Regions from separate parts of the Homo sapiens genome. Here all the other regions are linked to region 3. Evidence: fine-mapped expression QTL. A gene starts in region 3. Each other region holds a variant in brackets. All regions are shown on one strand. Distances are from middle to middle. Region 1 overlaps SPATA21 (spermatogenesis associated 21). Region 2 has its middle 19 kb from the start of RNU1-1. Region 3 holds the start of LINC01772 (long intergenic non-protein coding RNA 1772).

Region 1 (8,177 bases), 36 kb after region 3:
GGCATCTTCTTTTTTTTTTTTTTTTTTTTTTTTTTGAGATAGAGTCTTGCTGTCACCCAGGCTGGAGTGCAATGGTGTGATCATGGCTCACTGCAACCTCTGCCTCCTGGGTTCAAATGATTTCCGTCTAATTTTTTTTGTATTTTTAGAAGAGATGGGATTTCACCATGTTGGACAGGCTGGTCTTGAACTCCTGACCCCAAGTGATCCGCCCACCTCGGCCTCCCAAAATGTTAGGATTACAGGCGTGAGCCACTGCGCCCCACTGGCCTCTTTTTGAATGTGCCAAGTAGCATGAACTGAAGAGCATAAAGAAGACCCTCCTCACCATCCAGTTTCCTCAGGGCCAAAGATATCACCATTTAAAAAGTCAGCCAGCCGGGCGCGGTGGCTCACGCCTGTAATCCCAGCACTTTGGGAGGCCGAGGCGGGTGGATCACCTGAGGTCGGGAGTTCAAGACCAGCCTGACCAACATGGAGAAACCCAGTCTCTACTAAAAATACAAAATTAGCCTGGCATGGTGGTGCATGCCTGTAATCCCAGCAACTTGGGAGGCTGAGGCAGGAGAATCGCTTGAACCTGGGAGGTGGAGGTTGCGGTGAGCGGAGATTGCACCATTGCACTCCAGCCTGGGCAACAAGAGTGAAACTCCATCTCAAAAATAAATAAACAAACAAACAAACAAATAAATAAAATACAATACAATAAAATAAAAAGTCAGCCAGGTGCCATGGCTCACGCCTGCTCCCAATACTTTGGGAGGCAGAGATAGGTGGATTGCTTGATCCCAGGAGTTAAAGACCAGCCTGGGCAACATCGTGAGACCCCGTCTCAAAAAAAAAACAAAGCCAGGCGCGGTGGCTCACGCCTGTGATCCCAGCTCTTAGGGAGGCAGAGGCGGGAGGAGAGCTTGAGTCCAGGAGTTCGAGGCCTGCCTGGGCAATATAGCGAGACCCCGTTCTCCACAAAAAGGAAAAGAAAAAAAAAGCCAAAAAAAAAAATAAAAAGTCAACATGCCCTTGGGTATGTTCCCTGTAGCCTCTGTTATAAATCCTCACTTCCCCTGGGGCAGGGAGAGGGCCTGGAGGGGAGGAGGCTAGGAGAGAGGCTAGAGGTGAACATTCAGGGCTTCCTTCATCCACCCATTTATTTTTTCAACAAGCACCGTCATGGGGTCCCAGTCCCACCACTTACCCAGCTGTGTGATGTTGGGCCTGTCACTGCACCCCTTGCAGCCTCATTTGTTTTACGGTGTTGACTAAGGCACCTAGCACAGGCCCTGTCTCATAGTAGGTGCCTGTTAGTATTAGCTCACATCAGAATCTTGTATTATATCAATGTCAATGAGTTAATTAAGTCCATTTGTTTGGAGTTTGCTGACTCCGGTGATGCTTGGAGCGGGGTCTCAGTCACTGGCTCCAGGTCACCCAGTTGGAGAGTGACAGACCATGATAGTGATCAAAACCCAGTTCAGGCCAGGTGCGGTGCCTCATGCCTGTAATCCCAGCACTTTGGGAGGCTGAGGCAGACGGATCACTTGAGGTCAGAAGTTCGAGACCAGCCTGGCCTACAAAAAAAATAAAAAAAAAAAATTAGTTGGGCATGGTGGCGCACACCTGTAATCCCACCTACTCGGGAAGCTGAGGCACAAGAATCGCTTGAACCCAGCAGGTGGAAGTTGCAGTGAGCCGAGACTGTGCCACTGCACTCCAGCCTGGGCAAAGGAGGGAAACTCTCTCTCAAAAAATGAAATAAAAACTCAGTTCAAACTAGAGCCTGCGTTTTGAAGGCATGGGAATTGTTGAAGGCGTCTCTTGGACCTTGTGAGAGTCTTGGGGTCCCCCAGGGTGCTCTTTCAAGCTGTCCTTAAGGCAATCCCCTTGTCTCGGGTACTAATCTGGACTCCAGTTCATACCAGAGCCTTACGTGCTAAGCAACAGCAACAGCAGGGCCGGGCCCTGCATCCCTGCCTCTCAGCTCCTGCTCACCCCTCTCCAACAGCTTCCCCAATCAGGCACAGGATCTCCCTGTCCTTGAGGCCAGAAGAGTACCCAGGGAGGAGTGGGAGGGATCACTCCAGAACGGGTACTCAATGCCAGCCCTCAAGCCACTGCCATGGATATCTCTGTCCAGGTCATGTTTCCGGATGCTTCGGAAGTGGGCAGCAAGAAGCACCTCTCATCAGCTTCACGAGGGCCAGAGAAGGGGCCCAGACTCAGAGATGCATTTGAGAAGGGGCCTTCAGAGCTCAGAATCCAGGAGCAGGGGCCTCCAGCAAGACCAGGGTGAGCTGAGGGGCTCTCGAGAGAACAGGTCCAAGAGAGAACCCCCTGTAGCCCACCCGCGGGGGAGAGAGAGAGAATGGAGAACTCCCAGGCCAAGGCAGCTCCACCCACGACAGCACCTTGTCCTTCTCTTTCATTGCACCAGTTGCACTAAAGAGTTCATGTTAACCTTTTGTCTGAACTCCCCCAACGAGACCACAAACATCTTTTATGTGTCTTGTTTGAGGAGCATCATATACCTGGTTCAACCTCAAAGCCCTCATGCCTAGTACTATGCCTGACACATAGTAAATGTTCGATAAATATTGATTCACTGAATTAATAGAATAATGAACAAAAAAAGGTTAGGAGACACAGGAACATGTAAAGATGTACACGTAATTGTTTTCTAAATTTTGTGTTTTTTTAAAACTTTTCTACAGCAAGAATGTATTCAAAAAGAGAAAATCAAGAGCGAGCCAGATAGAGGCAAAGTGAAAGGCTGGGATAATAGAAATAGTAAAGACTAGCTGGCTTAGTTGGATTTGACTATAACCAGAAGCTCCTAAATAGCCTCCTCTACAAGAAAAGTTAGGAGAGACAACTCAAGCCAGGTCCGAGGCCCACTGAGACAACTACTGCATACCATGCCGGTGGAAATAGAAACCATTTAAGCATACCTGTTTCATCAACGTGGCAATTTGTTTAAACTGCCTTGAAACTCCCTTTATCCTCACCCATTTCTGGAAATAGGCCATGAGGAAATAATTGGTGATTCAAGCAGTTTTATGCACAAAGACTTTCACTGTCACATTATCTTAAATACTAAAAAATTAGAAACCCCTTAAGCGCCCACACAATAGGGAAATGGTTAATGATGGTTATCTTTAAAATATGGAATTTTATACATTTAATGAACATAAGAAAACATATAAAGCATGTTTCTGAAGGATTTTTAGCATGCGAAAAACACAGGCTATGATGTTAATTGAAAAAAGTACATTAGGCCGGGCACAGTGGCTCACACCTGTAATCCCAGCACTTTGGGAGGCCAAGGCAGGTGGATTACCTGAGGTCAGGGGTTTAAAACCAGTCTGGCCAACATGGCAAAACCCCATCTCTACTAAAAATATAAAACTAGCTGGGCATGGTGGCACATGCCTGTAATCCCAGCTACTTGGGAGGCTGAGGCAGGAGAATCACTTGAACCCAGGAGGCAGAGGTTGCAGTGAGCCAAGATCACTCCACTGCACTCCAGCCTGGGCAACAAGAGCAAAATTCTGTCTCAAAAAAAAAAAAAAAAAATATATATATATATATATATATAGCCGGGCACCATGGTTCACGCCTGTAATCTCAACACTTTGGGAAGTTGAGGTTGGCGGATCACTTAAGCCCAGGAGTTCAAGACCAACCTGGACAACATGGTGAAACCCCATCTCTACAAAAAATATGAAGATTGGCCAGGCATGGTGGCATATGCCTGTAGTCCCAGCTACTTGGGAGGCTAAGGCGGGAGGATTGCTTGAGCCCAGGAAGTGGAGGTTGCAGTGAGCTGAGATCATGCCACTACACTCGAACCTGGGTGACAGAGCAAGACTCTGTCTCAAATAAATAAATAAATAAATAAGTATGCATACGCATAGGAAGAAGCTTGGAGGAAATACTCCAGAATACTAAAGTGAGATCGGATAGACACAGCTTCAAATTTTGAACAGTTATCTTTAGCTTTATGA[C/G]CTTAGGCTCAAATCTCTTGTCCTCTCTGCATCCCAGTTCTGATTTTTGTTTCATTTTTTTCTGAAAAACAGTTTAAAAATACTATAAAACTTAAATTCTAGGCTGGATGCAATGGCACGTACCTCTAATCCCAGCACTTTGGGAGGCCGAGGTCGAAGATTGCTTGAGCCCAGGAGTTCAAGACCAGCCTGGGCAACACAGAGAGACCTTGTCTCTACAAATAATTGTGAAAGTTTAAATTTTAACTCCCCCAAACATTGACATCAAAGTGTCTATGATTTGGGGAATTCCTGTGAGTCCTTCATTGGTCCTTCCAGGCGTTAGCTATGCACCTATGGTATGCCTAGCCCTGTAAAAATATATAAAACAGTGCCCCAGTCTGGGAGCTAAAGTGTCACTTTGTCTATTTTCCCCAGGAAGAAACAGCCCTCTTGGGTCCCCCAGGAAGGGTCCCAGGAGCTGCAAGCAGGCCAGGATCAGAGTGAGCTGGGGTTGCTGCCTTCCTGGGTTCCTGAAGTACCTGAAGGGCTGCAGCAGCTGGGCTCCGGAAAGGAGATCAAGGGCCAGCAGGGGAGGCAACGGAACCGGGGAATCGGGGAGGATCAGCCTCCTGAGAGCTGCCAGGTAACCTAGGAGATCTGGGGAGAAGGGTATGGAATGACCTACCACAGAGGAGGTGAAAGAGCCCCCCTCCTATCATGCCCCCCATTCTGGTGCATGTATCTGTAGTCCCAGCTACTTGGGAGGCTGAGGCAGGGGTGATCCCTTGAGCCCAGGAGGTCAAGGCTACAATGAGCTATGTTCAGGCCACTGCACTCCAGCCTGGGTGACAGAATGTTTGCTCACCTCTGTGCCCTGAAGATGTCAAGCACTCAGTCTGTGGGTCACTGGGCTATTCCCCCAGCCTACATCACAAGCATTTAAGTCTTGTTTCCAGGCCGGGCATGGTGGCTCACGCCTGTTAATCCCAGCACTTCTGGAGGCCGAAGGAGGCAGATCACCTGAGGTCAAGACCAGCCTGGCCAACATGGTAAAACCCTGTCTCTACTAAAAAATATAAAATTAGCCGGGTGTGGTGGCACATGCCTGTAATCCCAGCTACTCAAGAGGCCGAGGCAGGAGAATTGCTTGAACACGGGAGGTGGAGGTTGCAGTGAGCTGAGATCGCGCCATTGCACTCCAACCAGGGCAATGAGAGCAAAACTCCGTCTCAAAAAAATAAAAATAAAATAAAAATAAGTCTTGTTTCCAGAGTGGCCCCACGGTATGTCAATGGGTGCAGGGGGGAGGGAGGAGGTGCCAGGTTCTGTATACAGATAATATTGGGACATGCTGAGTTTAACAAAGCTGAAACAGGTTTCTGTATGCTAGGATATCCTGGAAGCAGTTTACTAGCTGCTGAGCCTTTGTAAGATTTTGCAAGATATGATTAGAGGCCAGGCGCCGTGGCTCGTGCTTGTAATCCCAGCACTTTGGGAGGCTGAGGTGGGAGGATTGCTTGAGCCCAGGAGTTTGAGATCAGGGCAACATGGTGAAACCCCGTTCCTACAAAAAATACCAAAGTTAGCTGGATGTGGTGGCACATGTCTGTGGCCCCAGCTACTCCAGATACTGAGATGGGAGGATCCCCTGAGCCTGGGGTCCAGGCTGCAGTGAGCCAAGATCACACCACTGTGCTCCAGCCTGGGTGACAGAGTGAAACCCTGTCTCAAAAAAAATAAAAATAAAAAAATAAATAAAAAATTTTAAAAAGATATGGTTAGAGTATATTGCCTTTCCCAAACTTATTTGACCACAAGATCTTTTTTTATTTATCTGTAAGATTTTTTTTTTTTTTGAGACAGTCTTGCTCTGTCGCCCAGGCTGGAGTGCAGTGGCGCAATCTCGGCTCACTGCAAGCTCTGCCTCCCAGGTTCATGCCATTCTCCTGCCTCAGCCTCCCAAAGTGCTGGGATTACAGGTGTGAGCCACCGCACCCAGCCTGGTAAGATTTATTTTTAACAGCTTCAGTAAGGTATAATTGGCATTCACTTGCACATACTTTAAGTGTACAATTTAATATTTTGACATATGTACACACCCACAAAACCATCCCCACAATCAAGAAAGCAAACATAGCCATCACCCCAACCATTTCCTCATGCCCTTTCTCATCCCCCCTCCCACTAGTCTATCCCCAGGCGACTACCAACTATCACTATAGATTTGTTTGTATTTCGTGGAATTTTACACAAATGAAATTGTACAGTGTACATTCTTTCTGTCTGGCTTCGTTCACTCCACATGACTATTTGAGATTCATCTAGGTCGGGTGCGGTGGCTCAGCCTGTAATCCCAGCACTCTGGGAGGCTGAGGCGGGTGAATCACCTGAGGTCAGGAGTTCAAGACCAGCTTGGCCAACCTGGTGAAACCCCGTCTCTACTAAAAATATAAACATTAGCTGGGCATGGTGGCAGGTGCCTGTAGTCCCAGCTACTCGGGAGGCTGAGGCAGGAGAATCACTTGAACCTGGGAGGCGGAGGTTGCAGTGAGCTGAGATCATGCCAGTGCACTCCAGCCTGGAGAACAGAGTGAGACTCTGTCTCCAAAAAAAAAAAAAAAAAAAAAGGAGAGAGAGAAAGAGAAAGAAATTCATGTATTGTGTGTATCAACATGTTGTTCTTTTGGTTGCTCAGTAATATTTCCATTCTATGGATATACCATAATATACCACTTTTTTTTTTTTTTTTTTTTTGACATGGAGTCTCACCCTGTTGCCCAGGCTGGAGTGCAGGGGTGTGATCTTGGGTCACTGCAACCTCCACCTCCTGGGTTCAAGTGATCCTCCCACCTCAGCCTCCTGAGTGGCTGGGATTACAGGCACGTACCACCACGCCCAGCTAATTTTTGTGTTTTTAGTAGAGACAGGGTTTCACCATGTTGGCCAGGCTGGTCCTGAACTCCTAATCTCGTGTGATCCACCCACTTAGGCCTTTATTATTTTTTTTCAAGAGACAGAGTCTCACTCTGTCGCCCAGGCTGGAGTGCAGTGGTGTGATCATGGCTTACTGCAACCTCCACCTCCTGGGTTCAAGTGATTCTCGTCCCTCAACCTCCCAAATAGCTGGGATTACAGACATGAGCCACCATGCGTAGCTAATTTTGTGTAGAGACAGAATTTCTCCATGTTGGCCAGGCTGGTCATGAATTCCTGACTTCAAGTGATCCACCTGCCCCTCAGCCTCCCAAAATTCTGGGATTGCAGGTGTGAACCACCACACCTGGCCAAAACCTCCTCTTTTTAAGGAGGCTCATGAAGGATTCTTGTTCTTTGAAGTATCCCTTGGAAAATCCCATTAAGGCTGAGCATGGTGACTGATGCCTGTAATCCCAGCACTTTGGGAGGCTGAGGCAGGAGGAATGCTTGAGCCCAGGAGTTCAAGACCAGCCTGAGCAACATAGTGAGACCTCATCTCTACCAAAAATTAAAAAATATCAGCCAGGCGTGGTGACAGGTATTTGTAGTCCCAGCTACTTGGGAGGCTGAAGCAGGGGGATCCCTTGAGCTCAGGAGGTCAAGGCTACAATGAGCTGTGTTCTTGCCACTGCACTCCAGCCTGGGTGACAGAGTGAGACTTGTCTCAAAAAAAAAAAAAAATACACACACACACAAAGGAAAACCCTATTTAAAGGGGATCTTCTCAATTTTCCAGGCTCTCATTCCACTCCCATAGGGAAGTGTGGTTCTTTGGGTAGGCCACGCCTTCTCTGGGCTTCAATTTCCTCACCCTTCAAAATGTGGGAGTACCTGTGCTACCTTCTAGGGGCACTAGGAGAATTAAGTAAGATGATGCCTGAAGTGCTGGGACCCTAGTAAGTGTGTAATAACTGGTCTCCAGTTCGCCTGGAGCATTGAGGTTCACCTGGGAACGAGGATGGAGCTCCCCAGCCGTGGTGTCCTTGTCCTTGACAGGGCTCCGGATATCAATCCACCCCCAGTCACCAGGCAGACATGGTGCAGCCAGCAGAGCCTTGCTGCCGCTTGGCCAGCCATGGCCAGCCACTGGGAGGCAAGCACCCCAAGGAGGCAGGTGTCCCACACATCAGGCCACAGGAGGCTCCGCCAGAGCCCAGCCCAGGGGGACATGGGGACAGCTCTCAGGAAGCAATGCCCCCAATGTCCGTCGTGGCTCCA
Region 2 (8,177 bases), 33 kb before region 3:
GCTCGCCTGGGGGCGGGCTGGAGCCATGTCCCGGGGCTAGGGGCGCTGTGGGCGCCGCGCCCGCCGCTGCCCGGCACCGGAAGCCAAGAGGGCGTTCCCGACGGGCTCCGCAGATGCCCCTCCGCGTCCTGCCGCCCATCCTGCCCGGATTGTCGCGGGCCGGGGGCGCGACAGGAGGCCGAGGCCTGCCCGGGCGCAGAGGCCTGCCTGGGCGCAGCGGCCTGCAGGGCGCAGCCGTCCCTCCGCCGGTCGGGGTCCCCTCGCTCCGCGGGCGGCCGTGGGAGGCCCTCGCGACGGCCGCTACCCCTCGCAGATGCCCTCTGCAGCTCCTGCGTGCGGGCCCCGCCCTGCACTGCCCTCCTAGTGTGGGACGCGGTTTCGTCTTCATTGCAACCCTGCCGAGTCGGAAGCATCTCCATTGTGCGGATGGGTAAACTGAGGCCCAGAGCGCGCGGTTGGGCTGGCCACGGAGGCAGGGCCGCCGGATGCTGTGCGGGGATGGGGCCCTGCACCCCTTGCGCCTCTCACCATGGGGCCTCAGGCCCCTGTGCCCGGCAGCGTCTCTGGAGTGGGCATTTTGAACGAGCTCCCTCCTGATTTTCACACAGACTTAAGCCTGACGACCGTGCTGGGGCGGATGTCTGCCCCTCTGGTGACCAGGTCACAGCTCCCTTGGGAAGACGATTGACTGGGGAATGGGGACCCTGGGGAGGGGGCCTTCAGGGTGCCATCTGTCTGTTTACGCCAGAAAACAGAGATTTCTGTTTTCTTTCGCTGGGCTCACAGCAGGTGCTTAATAAACAGATCTTGTGGCGGGAGCAGAGGACAGCGAGGTTCAGGCACGACTCCAGGAGTCAACCCCTGGATCTCGGAGGCTCCCCACCCGCGCACATTTCCCTGACTTAACCCTCCCCTCCCCAGTCTTTCAGCCCTAGGAGGGGAGGCCCCCTTTCCACCCAGGTGGCCCCTGTGGGGGTCACTCCCTGGTTTTCACCCTGAACTTCTGGGATGCGGCAGATGCTGGATATGTGTTCGCTGGTGTCCTTGGCTCTTAGCATTCATTAATTCATTCAGCAGCTCTTCATGGAGCTTTGGCCTTAGCCCATGCACTGTGGAAGTGGCAGTGAACTAAGCCAACCTGGCACTTTGGGAGGCTGAGGTGGGAGAACGGCTTGAGCCCAGGAGTTGGAGACTAGCCTGGGCAACATCTCATCTCTACAACAAGTAAAAAATTAGCCAGGCATGGTGGCATGCACCTGTGGTCCCAGCTACTCAGGAGGCTGAGGTGGCCTCCCAAAGGCCCCCCCTCCTGGGCCTCCCTTAAGCCCAGGAGGTCAAGGCTGCAGTGAGCCATGATTTTGCCACTGCACTCCAGCCTGGACAACAGAGCAAGACCCTGTCTCAAAGAAAAAAAAAAGGAGGAGACAGACAACATACATGTTGGAGAAAACGGAACAGCCACTGGAGGGACCTCTTTAGCTGAGAGTCAGGGGTAGGTCCCTCAGAAGGTGATACTTTTGAGCAAAAATCTGGCCGACAAGCGGGGGAGTCAGCTGTGCAAAGGAAGAGGGAAGAGCGTCCCAGGCAGAGAAAGTGGCAGTGCAAAGGCCCAGAGGTGGGTGCATGCCTGGTGTTTGAGGAATCAAGAAGGCCATGAGCAGCCGGGTGTGGTGGCTCACACCTGTAATCCCAGCACTTTGGGAGGCCAAGGTGGGTGGATCACTTGAGGTCAGGAGTTTAAGACCAGCCTGGCCAATACAGTGAAACCTCATCTCTACTAAAAATGCAAAAATTAGCTGGGCATGGTGGTTCATGCCTATAATCCCAGCTACTCGGGAGGCTGAGGTAGGAGAATTGCTTGAACCCAGGAGGCAGAGGTTGCAGTGAGCAGAGATCGTGCATTACTGCACTCTAGCTCCAGCGTGGGCAACAGAGCAAGACTCTGCCTCAAAAAAAAAAAAAAAAGAAAAAAAAAAAGGAGATGAGGTGGGAGAAGTGGAGTGGGACCAGATCTGGTGGGCCCTGTGGGCCATGGAAGGACTTTGAACTTCATTTTAGGTGCGGTAAGGGCTAGTAGAGGGCCTTGGGTAGGGGAGGGATATGACCTTTACTGTGTGAAACTTGAGTGGGTGAGGGGATGAGCAGGAAGCATAGAGACCCTCGGGGAGCCATCTCAGCAGTCCAGGCAGTGGCTTATATAATACACATCGGCGTCCTGGGGTGGTGCCAGGTACACAGCAGGCGCTGCAGGATGGAAGTCATTGCCGTTACTGGTTTTGTTTATTTGAGACAGGGTCTTGCTCTATCACCCAGGCTAGAGTGCAGTGACACAACCATGGCTCATTGCAGCCTCAACCTTCCAGGCTCAAGCAATCCTCCTGCCTCAGCCTCTCAAGGAACTGGGACTACAGGAGGTGCATGCCACCATGCCAGGCCAATTTTTTGTATTTTTTTTTTGGTAGAGATGGATTCTCACTATGTTGCCAGGGCTGGTCTCAAACTCCTGGGCTCAAGCAATCCTCCTACCTCAGCCTCCCAAAGTGTTGGGACCACAGGTGTGAGTCACTGCACCCGGCTTGCTGTTATTATTTAAAACTCTGGGCTGGGCGCAGTGGCTCATGCCTATAATCCCAGCACTTTGAGAGGCCGAGGCGGGTAGATCACTTGAGGTCAGGAGTTTGAGACCAGCCTGGCCAACATGGTGAAACCCTGTCTCTACTAAAAATACAAAAATTAGCTGGGCGCGGTGGCGCATACCTGTAATCCCAGCTACTCAGGAGGCTGAGGTAGGAGAATTGCTTGAGCCCAGGAGGCGGAGGTTGCAGTGAGCCGAGATTGTGCCATTGCACTCCAGACTGGGTGACAGAGTGAGACTCCATCTCAAAAACAAAACAAAACAAAACAAACAAACAAAAAACAAAAACCCTTTGGAATCAGGCACACCTAGGTCGCGGCTGTGACTTGAGCTCTTTGTGGCTGGGTGCATTGGAGCCAATTATTTAACTTCACTGAGACTTCACGCTGTCATCTGTAAAGTGAGTAGGGTGGTGCCAGGAGTGTTAAAGCAGGTAAGGGACAGATGTAACGTTTTGGGCACAGGGCCTGGCTCGTGGTTGGTTCAATATTTTTGTCATAATTTCTAGTCAGCAGCAGGAGGATAATGAAGGGGTAAGCGGATAAGAGCAGCTGCTATGTTTGAAACGAGTAATCTTTGAGGGGCTTTTTGGCTAGTTCCTGCCGCTAGCCCTGGCAAAAGGCAAGTTTGGAGGGTGGTAGTGGGGAGGGAAGGGTACAAAGGGTGTCTCCTCTGTATTTGGTCACCAAATAATGTCTCAGCATCTAGAACAAGGCACAGGGTTCTAGCTTGGGGACTAGAAAGAGCCAATAATACTCATGATAGTAATGATAACAGTAGTAATAGCCAACACTTACCCGCTGTTGAACTGCAGGTAGTAATTAAGGTAACACTAGCTAATGTGATAGTGAAACCCTGAATTCTCAGAGGCTTAGCGCAATAGAAGTTTATTTCTCATTCATGAAAAGCCCTGTTGGGTGTTTGGCAGGTGGCTTTCTATGTGGCGACCCAGGGACCGAGATCCCTTCTGTCTTGTGGTTGCGGCATCCCCTAGGACCTTGGAGTTATTTCCTTCTAGCTGATGGACCAGGAAGGAGAGAAATAATTTTATGGACCAAGCCTAAAGTGGCACGCTGTCTTTCTGTCTTAATTCTATGGACCAGAACTTGACCACATGGCCGTATCTGACTGCAAGGGAGTCTGGGAAATGGCTTTTAGCCATATTCCTAAGAGGAATCGGAAATGCTTTGTGGTGAGCACATTGCAGTTTCTGCCACACCATATCCAGGCATATAGCTTAGCACGGAGTATTTTATTTAATGCTCATGCTAGAAACAGGCACCATTATTATCCCATTTTGCAGATGAGGAAACTGAAGCTCAGAGAAGTGAAGACACTGGTGCAGGGTCACACAGCTGGTGAGGGGCTGGTGAGCCAAGATTGGAGTCCAGGTGGCCAGATGCTGAAGCTGTTAGCATCCAGATTTCTAAGAGGAATTCAGTCATTTTTTTTTTTTTTTTTTTGGAGAATTGGGTGGAAGCAGTGGACATATACACGGGGTTCAGATATGACTTCCTGGGACCCACAGAACCCAGCAGGACTCTGGGGGAGAACTTTGGGGATGGAGCCAAGGGTGGGTGTCACCTGGTGCCAGGGGCTGACATCCTGTCTCCTTCCCCCAACCCTTAGGACTGTGGTCAGGAGAAGGCACAGAATAATTGAGTTCAGTCCCTCAAGGACATCTGGGGCCCCCTCTGCTGAGCTAGGCATGCAGGGCTGGACATGCTGGTCCAGGGGTATTTGTGGCTTCCCCCCTGCTCTGGTGGGCAGGTGTGCAACCTGTAGAGGGGATTTTTGGAGGCTGCCTAGAGGTAGAAGAGTGGGCGTCCCTGGG[G/T]TTTGTAGTGGCAGCTCTATGCTGCTGGCTGGATTAGTTTTCTTTTTTTTTTTTTTTTTTGAGACAGAGTCTCTCTCTGTCACCCAGGCTGGAGTGCAGTGGTGCGATCTCAGCTCACCAAAACCTCTACCTCCCAGTTTCAAGTGGTTCTTGTGCCTCAGCTTCCCGAGTAGTTGGGACTACAGGCACCCACCACCATGCCCAGCTAATTTCTGTATTTTTAGTAGAGACGGGGTTTCACCACATTGGCCAGGCTGGTCTAGAATTCCTGACCTCAAGCGATCCACCTGCCTTGGCCTCCCAGTGTTGGGATTACAGGCATGAGCCACCGCACCTGGCCAGTGGCTGGTTTGGTTTTGCCCAAATCTGGCTTGCTTGCCATTGCAACTTGGCAACATTTATCTTTTTGGCCCTGTTTCTTGGTTTTCCATTTGCAGGGCAGGTTCCTTAGTTGGGCATGAGCGGTCCAGCCTGGACTGATGAGCATTTATACAGCACCGTGGCATTCTGGGTCTGACCTGGATACAGAAGTAGAGCCTCAAAGCACAAATGCCTCGGCCTTGCCCTTCAGTCACTCATTGGGAGGCTGCTGGTCTAAGTGGAATGAGCTTTGGGCTCACCACTTCCCTGAAGCATGTCGCCTTGAATAGGTGAGAGCCCAATCTCTCTGAGCCTCAGTTTTCTCATCTGGAAATGGGTTGAAGTAAGGATTTAATGAGATAATGTGAATATGCCCCCTTTGGGGCACAGCATGGAGCAGCGGGCACCCAGAGGTCAAGGGCTGAGGCATAGCAGTGTAGCAGGACGAGCCGCAGGCAAAACTCCTCAGTCACCAGGTTAAAGAAGGAAGGAGCTTTATTCGGCCGGGAACTTCAGGAGACTTGTGTCTTAAAAGCCGAGCTCCTCGAGTGAGCAATTCCTGTCCTTTTTCAGGGCTTACAACTCTAAGGGCAGGAGGCCAGACACGTGATGCTAATGACAATAGGAACAGCAGCCACCATTGGCTAATAGCTCACCACCTGCCAGGTGTGGTAGGTACTATCAGTCGCATTTTTTTGTTGTTTTTGGTAGGACAGAGTCTCGCTATGTTGCCCAGGCTGGTCTCAAACTCCTGGGCTCAAGCGATTCTCCCATTTTGGCCTCCCAAAGTGCTGGGGTTACAGACCTGAACCACCACACCCAGTCTAGTATCATTTTATTTTATTTTATTTTATTTTTTTGAGACAGAGTCTTGCTCTGTAACCCAGGCTGGAGTACTGTGGCACAATCTTGGCTCACTGCAACCTCCTCCTCCTGGGTTCAAGTGATTCCCCTGCCTCAGCCTCCTGAGTAGCTGGGATTATATGCACATGCCACCACGCCCCAGCTAATTTATTTATTTATTTATTTATTTATTTATTTATTTATTTATTTATTTTTTGAGACAGAGTCTTACTCTGTTGCCAGGCTGGAGTGCAGTGGTGTGATCTCCGCTCATTGCAGTGTGGCCTCTTGGGGCTTCCTCCGTGCCTCTGCTCGGTAACCATAGCGATCTTCCAGGGAACTGTGGGCATGGGTTGGTGACACTCAAAATGCGAGTGATAGGGAGGTGAACAAGGTAGGCCCTCCCACTACTGGGCTGGTATTCTGGGAACAACAGACAAGCTAACTGATGTCTTTAATGCCACAGTCAGCTTCAAGGTTCAAGCGATTCTCCTGACTCAGCCTCACAAGTAGCTGGGACTACAGGCATGCACCAACATGCCCAGCTAATTTTTGTATTTTTAGTAGAGACGGGGTTTCACCATGTTGGCCAGGATGGTCTCAATCTCTTGACCTCGTGATCTGCCCACTTTGGCCTCCCAAAGTGCTGGGATTACAGACTAATTTTTGTATTTTTAGTAGAGATGGAGTTTCACTATGTTGGCCAGGCTGGTCTCGAACTCCTGACCTCAAGTGATCTGCCCGCCTCAGCCTCCCAAAGTGCTGGAATTACAGGCTTGAGCCACTGCGCCTGGCCTGGTCTAGTCTCCTTTTAGAGATGAGAAAACTGAGGCTCAGGGAGGTAACCTGTTCAAGGTCATGAACTGTCTTGAAGACCATAGTTGCAAGTGACAGAGCTGGGTCTCAGATGCAACCTCAGACCTGATACTGACTCCAGAGCTGTGCGCCTAAGCACTAGAGCACATAGCCTCCTTGCCCCAGGGAAAGAACAATGGGAGGTTGTGGGTGACCTCTGGGTCTCAGGGCCCTGGGATATAGGGACTGTGCCTTTTTTTTTTTTTTTTTTTTGAGACAAAGTTTCGCTCTTGTTGCCCAGGCTGGAGTGCAATGGCATGATCTCAGCTCACTGCAACCTCCGCCTCCCAGGTTCAATTGATTCTCCTGCCTCAGCCTCCCAAGTAGCTGGGATTACAGGCATGTGCCACCACACCCGGCTAATTTTTGTATTTTTGGTGGAGATGGGGTTTCGCCATATTGATCAGGCTGGTCTCGAACTCCTGACCTCAGGTGATCCGCCTGCCTTGGCCTCCCAAAATGCTGAGATTACAGGTGTGAGTGCCCATGCCTGGCAGGACTGTGCCTTTTGCATTTTCAAATGAAGGAAATGAGTATTTCTTGAGTGTTGACCGTGTGTCCCCCCGGCACCGTGTCATGTGCTGGTTATGCACACACGATATTCTGTTTCATCCCCGGACAGCTCTGTGAGGTGAGTACCAATATTATTCACATCTTACGTAAGAGGACACTGAGTCTCAGAGAGAGGCAGAGTCACTGTCCCTGGTGCACCCAGCTAGTAGGGGCTGGGGTGGGTGTGAAGGGGCCAGAAGCTTCCCAATAAGTGCCTGAAGGGCAAGGCTAGGGCATTTGTAGTTCGAGGCTCTACCACTCTGTCTAGGTCAGACCTAGGAATGCTGCAGGTGTTGCATAAATGCTCATCAGTCCAGGCTGGACCGCTCATGCCCAACTAAGTGCCAAGCCTGGCCTGGCTGATCTCACAGCCTGCATTCTTTGCCCTACACCTGTTGTGGGAAAACGTAAATCCTCTCATTCTTAGCTAACCTTGTGACCCCCGTTCTGGGCCAGCAAAGATGATCCCAAATACTTAGGACTCTGGCCTTTCGCACTACGTGGCTACTGACCCCACCCCCTGGGCTTGGAGGGCTCTAGGACCCAACAACCTGCGGAGGGTGAAGAGTGTGTGAGGTCCTGACCTCCAGCTGCCTCCCCTCCTTTCCTCCCCCCATTCCCTCTTCTCTCTCCTCCCTCCCTTTCTCTCCCTTCTCCTCCCCTCTCTTCATCCTTCCTCTTCCTTTGGCTCCCCACCTCTGCTTCCCTCCTCTCCTGTCCTTTTCCATCCCCTCCCTCCTCAGCCCCCACCCCAGAGCCTGGAGTTGCAGAGGCAGCTACAGGAGGAGCAGGCCTCCTACCAGCGCAAGCTGCAGGCCTACCTGGAGGGCCAGCAGCGGCAGGCCCAGCTTGTGTGCAGCGGCTGCAGGGCAAGGTCAGGGCCACCCACTCCTGCTCCTGCCCTCCCACATGTTCATTTTGCCCTGCCCCCACCCATGGGGGTCACCATCAGCTCCCCATCCCCACATTCTCCAGTACAAGAAGAGGTACTCGGAGCTGGAGCAGCAGCTGCTGGAGAGATCCGGAGAGCTGGAGCAGCAGCGGCTAAGGGTGGGTGCCAGGGTGGGGCAGGGGCAGGCCTGCCCCTGCCCTCCACCT
Region 3 (8,177 bases):
TCCAATGATGGGCATCCTAATAAGGAAAGGAGAGGACACACATGGAAACACAGGGAGGAGGCAGAGATTGGCGTGATGCTGCCACACACCAAGGAATGCTCGGGGCCACCAGAAGCCTGAAGTGGCAAGGATTCTGGCCTAGACCCTCTGGAAGGAGCATGGCCCTACTGGCATCTTGATTTCAGATGTCCAGCCTCTAGAACTGGGAGAGAATAAATACATTCAGGTGGTTTAAAGCACCCAGTGTGTGGTCACTTGTTACAGCAGCCCTAGCAAGCTAATACACAGGTAGACTTGTTTTGAGACGAAGTCTTGCTTTGTTGCCAGGCTGGAGTGCAGTGGCACAATCTCGGCTCACTGCAACCTCTGCCTCCTGGGTTCAAGTGATTCTCCTGCCTCAGCCCCCCGAGTAGCTGGGACTACAGGCGCATTCCACCACGCCCAGCTAATTTTTAGAAGAGGCGGGGTTTCACCTTGTTGGCCCGGATGGTCTTCATCTGTTGGCCTCGTGATCGGCCCACCTCAGCCTCTCAGAGTGCTGGGATTACAGGCGTGAGCCACTGCACCCCGGCCAGGTAGACTTCTAAGATGGCTCTCAATGATCCTTGCCTCCTGGTATCCACACCCTCCACTTAGTGCGGACAGGACTTGTGACTTCTACTCTGAAGACCCAGCCAAGGGATGGGATCATTTCTGGAATTAAAACTATGACTGCTATCTTGCCACAATCACGTTTGCTGGCTTCAATGAAGCAACTGCAAAGATGTGAACTATGCAGAGGCCTACGTGGAAAGAAAATGAGAGTGACCTCTGTCCAACAGCCACGAGGAACAGAATCATGCCCAAAACCACGTGAGCGAGCTTGGAAGCAAACGCTTTCCCTGCTGGGCCTTAAGATGACAGTGCGGCCTCGACTGACACCTTGACTGCAGCCTGTGAGAGGCCTGTGACCCAGCTGAGCTGCACCAGATTCCTGACCACAGAAGCGGAGATGACAAATGCAGGTCATTTTGGGCGGGTGTGGTGGCTCATGCCTGTAATCCCAGCACTTTGGGAGGCTGAGGTAGGCGGATCACCTGAGGTCAGGAGTTTGAGACCAGCCTGGCCAACAGGATGAAACCTTGTCTCTACTAAAAATACAAAAATTAGCCAGGCATGGTGGCGGAAGCCTGTAATCCCAGCTACTTGGGAGGCTGAGGCAGGAGAATCGCTTAAACCTGGGAGGTGGAGGTTGCAGTGAGCTAAGATTGCACCATTGCACTCTAGCCTGGGCAACAAGAGTGAAAATCTGTCTCAAAAAAAAATAAAAATACAAATAAATAAAGTACCTACTTACAGGCTTTGTATGGTTGGCTAAAAAAAAAAAAAAAAAAAAAAGAAAAAAAAAAAAAAACAGTATCTGTCTACATTCAAGCTGCGGTGAGGAAAAATTGGTCTTTTCCCTACTCCAGTCCACTCAGTCCACAGAGCATGGTATCTTTCTCACTCCCAGCTCATAGAAATCGACAACTATTAAGCACCTACTGTGTGCCCATGATGCATTTCAGTAGCTTTCAATCACCAATGGAATAAAGCCCCACCCTTCGCCTGTCATTCCTACTTGCCACGGCTTTCGTAAGCCATGTGGAGGGAATGGGACTTTTCATATATTAAGGGGGTCTTATGTGCCAGGCTTTGCAGGGAGCACTGCTCCAAAGAAGTAGCCACCCTGACTAAAAGCATGGATGCTGGAGCCAGACTGCCTGGGTTCAAATCCCAGCTCTGCCACTTACCAACCATGTGACTTTGAACAAATTATATAATTTCTCTGCATTTCTCATTTTCGAAACAGGGATGAGTACTGCTATAAACATTTGTGTCCACCCCCACCTCCAAATTCATACTGAAACCTAACCCCTAGTATGATGGTATTTGGAGGTGAGTTCTTTGGAAGGTAATTATGTCATAAGCGTAGAGCCCTCACAAACAGTATTGCCCTTATAAGGAAGCCCCAGCCAGGTGTGGTGGCTCACGCCTATAATCCCAGCACTTTGGGAGGCTGAGGCAGGTGGATCATGAGGTCAGGAGTTTGAGACCAGCCTGGCCAATAAGGCAAAACACCATCTTGACTAAAAATACAAAAATTAGCTGGGCGTGGTGGCATGTGCCTGTAGTCCCAGCTACTTGGGAGGCTAAGGCAGGAGAATTGCTTGAACCCAACAGGCAGAGGTTATAGTGAGCCAAGATCACACTCCAGCCTGGGCAATAAGAGCAAAACTATCTTTAAAAAAAAAAAAGGCAGTGCCATTCCCATGTGGTGGCTCATGCCTTTAAGCCCAGCACTTTGGGCGGCCAAAGCAGGAGGATCACTTGAGGCCAGGAGTTTGAGATCAGCCTGGTCAATATAGCAAGACTCCATCTCTTAAAAAAAAAAAAAAAAAAAAAAAAAAGTCCCCAGAGTACTCTATTGCCCCTTCTACCATGTGAGGTTACAGCAAAAAGACGGCCTCACCAGACACCGAATCTGCTGGTGCCTTGGACTTCCCAGCCTCCAGAACTGTGAGCAAAAAATTTCTTTTGTTTATAAACTACCCAGGCTATGTTATTCTGTCATAGTCCCAAATAGACTAAAACAAGTACTTACTGGCCAGGTGCGGTGGCTCACACTTGTAATCCCAGCATTTTAGGAGGCCAAGGCAGGCTGATCACTTGAGGTCAGGAATTTGAGACCAGCCTGGCCAACATGATGAAACCCCGTCTCTACTAAAAATCAAAAAAATTAGCCGGAAGTACTGGCACACGTCTGTAATCACAACTACTCGGAGGCTGAGGCAGAAGAACTGCTTGAACGCAGGAGGCAGAGGTTGCAGTGAGCTGAGATCATGCCACTGCATTCCAGCCTGGGCCACAGAGCGAGACTGTCTCAAAACACAAAAAAAACAAGTCCTTACCTCATGGGGTTGTAGAGATGATGCAATGAGTTTTATAAGTGCATAGAATAGTGCCTAGCAGAGAGTTAAGCATTACTTTAGCAATAAACAATAAGCATTACTTAAAGGCAACAGGAAGGCCCAAAGGAGCATCATAAGGGACCTCCCAAGGCCCTACAGCTATTAAGTCTATCCAGATTCTCTCTTTTCCACACTGATTCCCACCTCAAACACACTTTGCTAACCTTTGTGTTGGTTATCTATTGCTGCATAACCTTACCAGAAACTTAGCGACTTAACACAATACATTTACCATCTGTTCCTATGGGACAGTCTGGGCACAGCTTAGCTGGTCCTCTGCAAGGCTGCAGTCAGTGTTGGTCAGGCCTGGGGTCTCACCTGAAGGCTTACCTGGGAGTGATCAGCCTCCAAGCTTGTGTGGTTGCTGGCAGCATTTGCTTTCTTGCAGACTGCTGGACTGAGCTTCAGTTTCTTGTTGGCTGTCAGAGGCTACCTCAGTTCCTAGCCACCTGACCCTCTCCCAAGGGCAGCTCACACAACATGACAGCTTCCTTCTTCAAAGCCAGCAAGAGAATTTCTCAGCAAGGCAGATGTTGCAGTCTTACATAAGGCAACCATGAAAATAACATCTTGTCACCTTTGTGGCACTCTACTGGTTAGCAGTCACAGGTCTAGGCCATCTCAAGGGGCAGGGAGTACATAAGGCTGTGAACAGCAGGTGGGGATCACAGTGACCACCTGGGAGTCTATCTGCCACACCTCCCAGTGCATCCAAATTCTGTTGTGCAGAGGGCAAGTGAGGTCTAGCATACCCCCCAAGAAAGCAGCCATCTTCTACCATCCACCCACCAGTTTGTAAACTCCAGTCAGGGGTGTAATTGAAGTGATGCCTGGTTTGGGATTGAGTTTTCCTGGAGATTCTGGTCCTGTAATGAGTTTTTTCCAGCTGGGATTCCAGTTAGTGATGGACAGCATCAAGCTGTCCCTTGCTCCTGGCCCCAGACCCCACAAGGTGCTTTTCAGGCTAGATTCCTGAGGGCTGTGTCATCAGCTGTGCCACCTCCTCCTCCCTACCATGATGAACTGTTCTGGGTACTTACCTGACTCCAGAGAAAGGTCATTAAGGTCAAACAATGCAATGTGCATCTGCTAGTGCCTCATCCGAGTGACGCTCAGGTGAAGGAACAGCCTGTGGCCACACGTCTAACCAGGGGATAGCCTAGATCCTAAGGCCAGGTCTGTCTCCACAATCCAAGTGCTGATCTTCAATGGTACATACTTTTTTTTTTTTTCCTTTTGAGACAGTCTTGCTCTGTTGCCCAGGCTAGAGTACAGTGGCATGATCTCAGCTCACTGCAACCTCCACTTCCTGGAGGCAATTCTCATGCCTCAGCTTCTCAAGTAGCTGGGATTACAGGCGTGCGCCACCATGCCTGGCTAATTGTTGTATTTTTAGTAGACGGGGTTTCACCATGTTCGCCAGGCTGGTCTCGAACTCCTAACCTCAAGTAAGCCACCCACTTCGGCCTCCCAAAGTGCTGGGATTGTGGGCATGAGCCACCACACCCAGCCATGGTACACACTTCTAATAAAGCTTCCTCTACATCTAAGCTTTCTGATTTCCACCCTCCAAGTACTTAAAACTGACTCGATGTGAAGTAATGCTATGTGAAATCGACATAAAAAAGTTACTGCTCCCGAAGATCCTTTAATGCAATCTCCTTACCCTTAATTCAATGGGCAAGAGAATCTTCAATTTTCATTTTCTTTCTCCTCTCTACAGTTTCTTAATCAGAGTGGCTATTTCCATAACAATAAAAACTGCTTCTTACAGAATCCTCAGGCAAAAGAAGTGTTGTGGCTTTTTTTCATTTTTAATTCTTTTAGAGAATTCTCTAGGGTCTCACTGCTGCCTAGACTGGAGTGCGAGGCCGTGATCATAGCTCACTGCAGCCTCAAACTCCTGGGCTCAAGCAATTCTCCCACCTCAGCCTCGCAAGTAGTTAGGATTCCAAGCATGCACCACCACCACACTAATTTTTTTTTTTTTTTTTTTTTTTAAGAAATGGGGTCTAACAGCCGGGTGCCGTGGCTCACGCCTATAATCCCAGCACTTTGGGAGGCCAAGGCGGGCAGATAACTTGAGGTCAGGAGTTTGAGACCAGCCTGGCCAGCATGGTGAAACCCCATCTCTACTGAAAAAATACAAAAATTAGCTCGGTGTGGTAGGTGCCTGTAATCTCAGCTACTGGAAAGGTTGAGGTAGGAGAATCACTTTAACCTGGGAGGCGGAGGTTGTAGTGACCAAGATTGCTCCACTGCACTCCAGCCAGGGCAACAGACTGAGACTGTGTCTCAAAAAAAAGGAAAGAAATGCATCTTACTATGTTGCCCAGGCTGGTCCCAAACTCCCAGCCTCAAATGATCCTCCCGTCTTGGCCTCTCAAAGTGCTGGGATTACAGGCGTGAGCCACTGCACCCGGCCTCTTAATTTTACTTTTGACCTCTGGGTATCTGCACCCCTTTACTACTTAGGGAGATGCTCTGCCGGTAGGTTTGGTGGAAGACGGAAAGCAAGGGGCCAGGCTCTCTAGAACGGCCTGTATCATGAGACGCCACAAGAGAATTAAGCCCCACACAAAGTGATTCAAGCAACTACTTTCACATCAACCAAAGGATGATGAAAAGACTGTACTATCCTAGAGAACACAGGAGAGAAGGTACCGATTGCCTTAGACAACAAGGTTGCATTTCCTCACTTTGGCCAGCCTCACACCCCAGCCCTGAACTTTCAATCTGGACACTTGGTCAGTGGTGAGAGAAGTGGCCGTGAGTCTAGCTGTGGCACCCTGAAGAGTTTAACAGCCACGCGGCCAGAAACACATTCATCTTTCACATACAATGACAGAAGTAAAAATATTTATTTTATCTTAAAAATCTGGTCCCGCAAAAAGGCCAACACTTTTTTCAGTTCACGGTCTTGACCTTTCAAAGAAGAAATCTTTCAACTGAGAGGTGAGTTAATAAAAGGAATGTCAGAGGTGCTTTCAGATTTCTTATAAACCAGTAAACCAAGCAACCCTGGACTTCTAGTTTACTGAGCTCCTTCTTCTAGCCATTCACAGTTCCTGAAGGAGAAAAGAAGTTGTTTGCAGATAAGGCACTTTAGAAACCACCAAAGAGAAAACCCAAGTCTGCCAGGAGCTGCACTGTGAACATGTGAGCCGAGAGGGCCACCAGCAGACAGAGTGCCAACTCCCACAGCTCCATGACAACAGCATCCACCTTCCTGCCCCAACACTGTTCCGTCTGGCTTCCAGCACCCGCCTTGGCTCTGTGTTGCCTACCTGGCCTAGAATACATGGAAACCAGACAACTGGCCAGAGATAAACACTGCTGCCTGAAGCTCAGGGCAGCTGCCCACAGTGAGGAATCCCTTCAGAGGCCCCAGCTGGGGCACGCCGAGGGAGCAGTTCCTTTTGCAAAGATGAGTTAGTGCGGATCAGCACATTAGCAAAGCAAAATATTTAAACATTTTTAAAAGCTGCTAATCCTTCCAATTTCCCTCCTGATTGTAGCTCAAGCTGCAGCCTCTAAACCTGCTAAAAATCAGGAAGAAACCCCTCCTCTGGAGGGCAGATGGACTGAAGTGGCTACAGCCAGTGTGGGTACGGAAAGCCTCCCGCTGAACTGTGATCATGTGACACCTGCAGACCCTGGGAAGGGCTGATCTGAATCCTGGCAGCAAACTCAACCTCTTCTTTTGCTTGGGGGGCTTGTGTTTAATACAGGTCATTGCGATGGAAGAAGTCTCAGAGTCTCTCTCACATCAAGAGGACAGATGGGGACAGGGATCCTGGAGCTTTTCTTCTCCTGTGTTCTGGTTGCATACTTGAATCCCAGGAAACAGTGTGACACGGTGCCAATTTACTGCCAAACATGCCCGGTTTGTCAACAGAGCCAGACAAGGAGGAGAGGAGAGATTCATGCCCCAAACACAGGCCAGCTGAGGAGGGCTTCGTCCTCCTTCCTTTGGCCCAGATGAGGGAGCGCCTTCCCAGAAGTCACATGAGGAAAAACCGTGCTCAGGTCAGAACTGGACCCAGCCTGTGCCTGGCTGGGTCTGGCTGGAAGTTGATCTGTAAAGAGAAGACAGGGAAGGGTGGGGGAGTTCAGATCTTTGAAAATACAAAGCAGATAAAAGTTGGTTTCTCTCTGGACAGAAAAAGCTCTAAGAAGCCAGTTCCTAAATGTTCTAGAGCAGCAGTCAGCAAACTCTGGCACAGAGACCAAATCTGGCCCTCGATGGTTTTTTTTTTTTAAATAGTTAATGTAACTGTATTTACCAAAGTTTTTTGTTTGTGGTTTTGTTTTTTGTTTTGTTTTTTTTTTGAGACAGGGTCTCACTGTCGCCCAGGCTGGAATGCAGTGGCACACTCAAGGCCAACTATAGCCTCAACCTCTTGAGCTCAAGCGATCCTCCTACCTCAGCCTCCCTAGTAGCTGGAACTACATGACCGGTTAATTTTTGTATTTCTTTTAGTAGACACAGGGTTTTGCCATGTTGCCCAGGCTGGTCTCGAACTCCTGGCCTCAAGTGATCTGCCTGCTTTGGCCTCCCAAAGTGCTGGGATTACAGGCGTGAGCCAACATGCCTGGCCGAAGAGTCTTAACCCCTTTCCCATGTAGAAAAAATATAGCTCACTGCCAGCCCTCATTTAATTTTACATAAACATGCTCTTTGAGGCTGAAGCAAATCTGACTGATTTTCAACGTGAAAATAAAATATAAAAACTGTTCTTGGAGTTATTTCAGAATCATCTGAATAATCAGAACTATTTTGGAAAAATCAGACTCCTCAAATGAATCTTAGGCTAAAAACTGTTCAAGAACGATGTTAACATCACATGTAAGAATGCTGCGTTTTCTAGGATTTGACTTTTTCAGTAATCAATAATTACTATATTTTGGGCCAGGCATGGTAGTTCACGCCTGTAATCCCAGCACTCTGGGAGGCTGAGGTAGGCGGACTGCTGGATTCCAGGAGTTCCAGACCAGCCTGGGCAACATAGCAAAACCCCGCCTCTACTAAAAATACAAAAAATTAGCCGGGTGTGGTGGCAATTGCCTGTAGTCCCAGCTACTCAGGAGGCTAAGGGATAATCACCTGAGCCTGGAAGGTCAAGGATGCAGTGAGCCGACATCACGCCACTGCACTCCAGCCTAGGCAACCAGAGTGAAACCTTG

Evidence for each region.
Region 1: its variant is fine-mapped to the expression of LINC01772 in whole blood (TOPMed, PIP 0.99).
Region 2: its variant is fine-mapped to the expression of LINC01772 in monocytes (TOPMed, PIP above 0.99).

What each region holds. Positions count from the first base shown.
Region 1 is chr1:16,421,973-16,430,149 of GRCh38, reverse strand. The region is part of intron 3 of SPATA21 (spermatogenesis associated 21); the gene reads left to right. Among named protein-coding and RNA genes, the nearest start is that of SPATA21, 11 kb to the left of the region's middle. The variant C/G (reference allele first, on the strand shown) is at 4,002.
Region 2 is chr1:16,490,962-16,499,138 of GRCh38, reverse strand. It overlaps the pseudogene CROCCP3. Among named protein-coding and RNA genes, the nearest start is that of RNU1-1, 19 kb to the left of the region's middle. RefSeq lists a silencer at 1-301 and enhancers at 7,425-8,068, 8,069-8,177. The variant G/T (reference allele first, on the strand shown) is at 4,470.
Region 3 is chr1:16,457,734-16,465,910 of GRCh38, reverse strand. LINC01772 (long intergenic non-protein coding RNA 1772) reads right to left here and starts at 4,963. Exons shown (of 2, transcript NR_147210.1): 1 at 2,624-4,963. It overlaps NECAP2 (NECAP endocytosis associated 2), which reads right to left. Exons shown (of 8, transcript NM_018090.5): 8 at 5,833-7,069. The coding sequence ends at 7,021.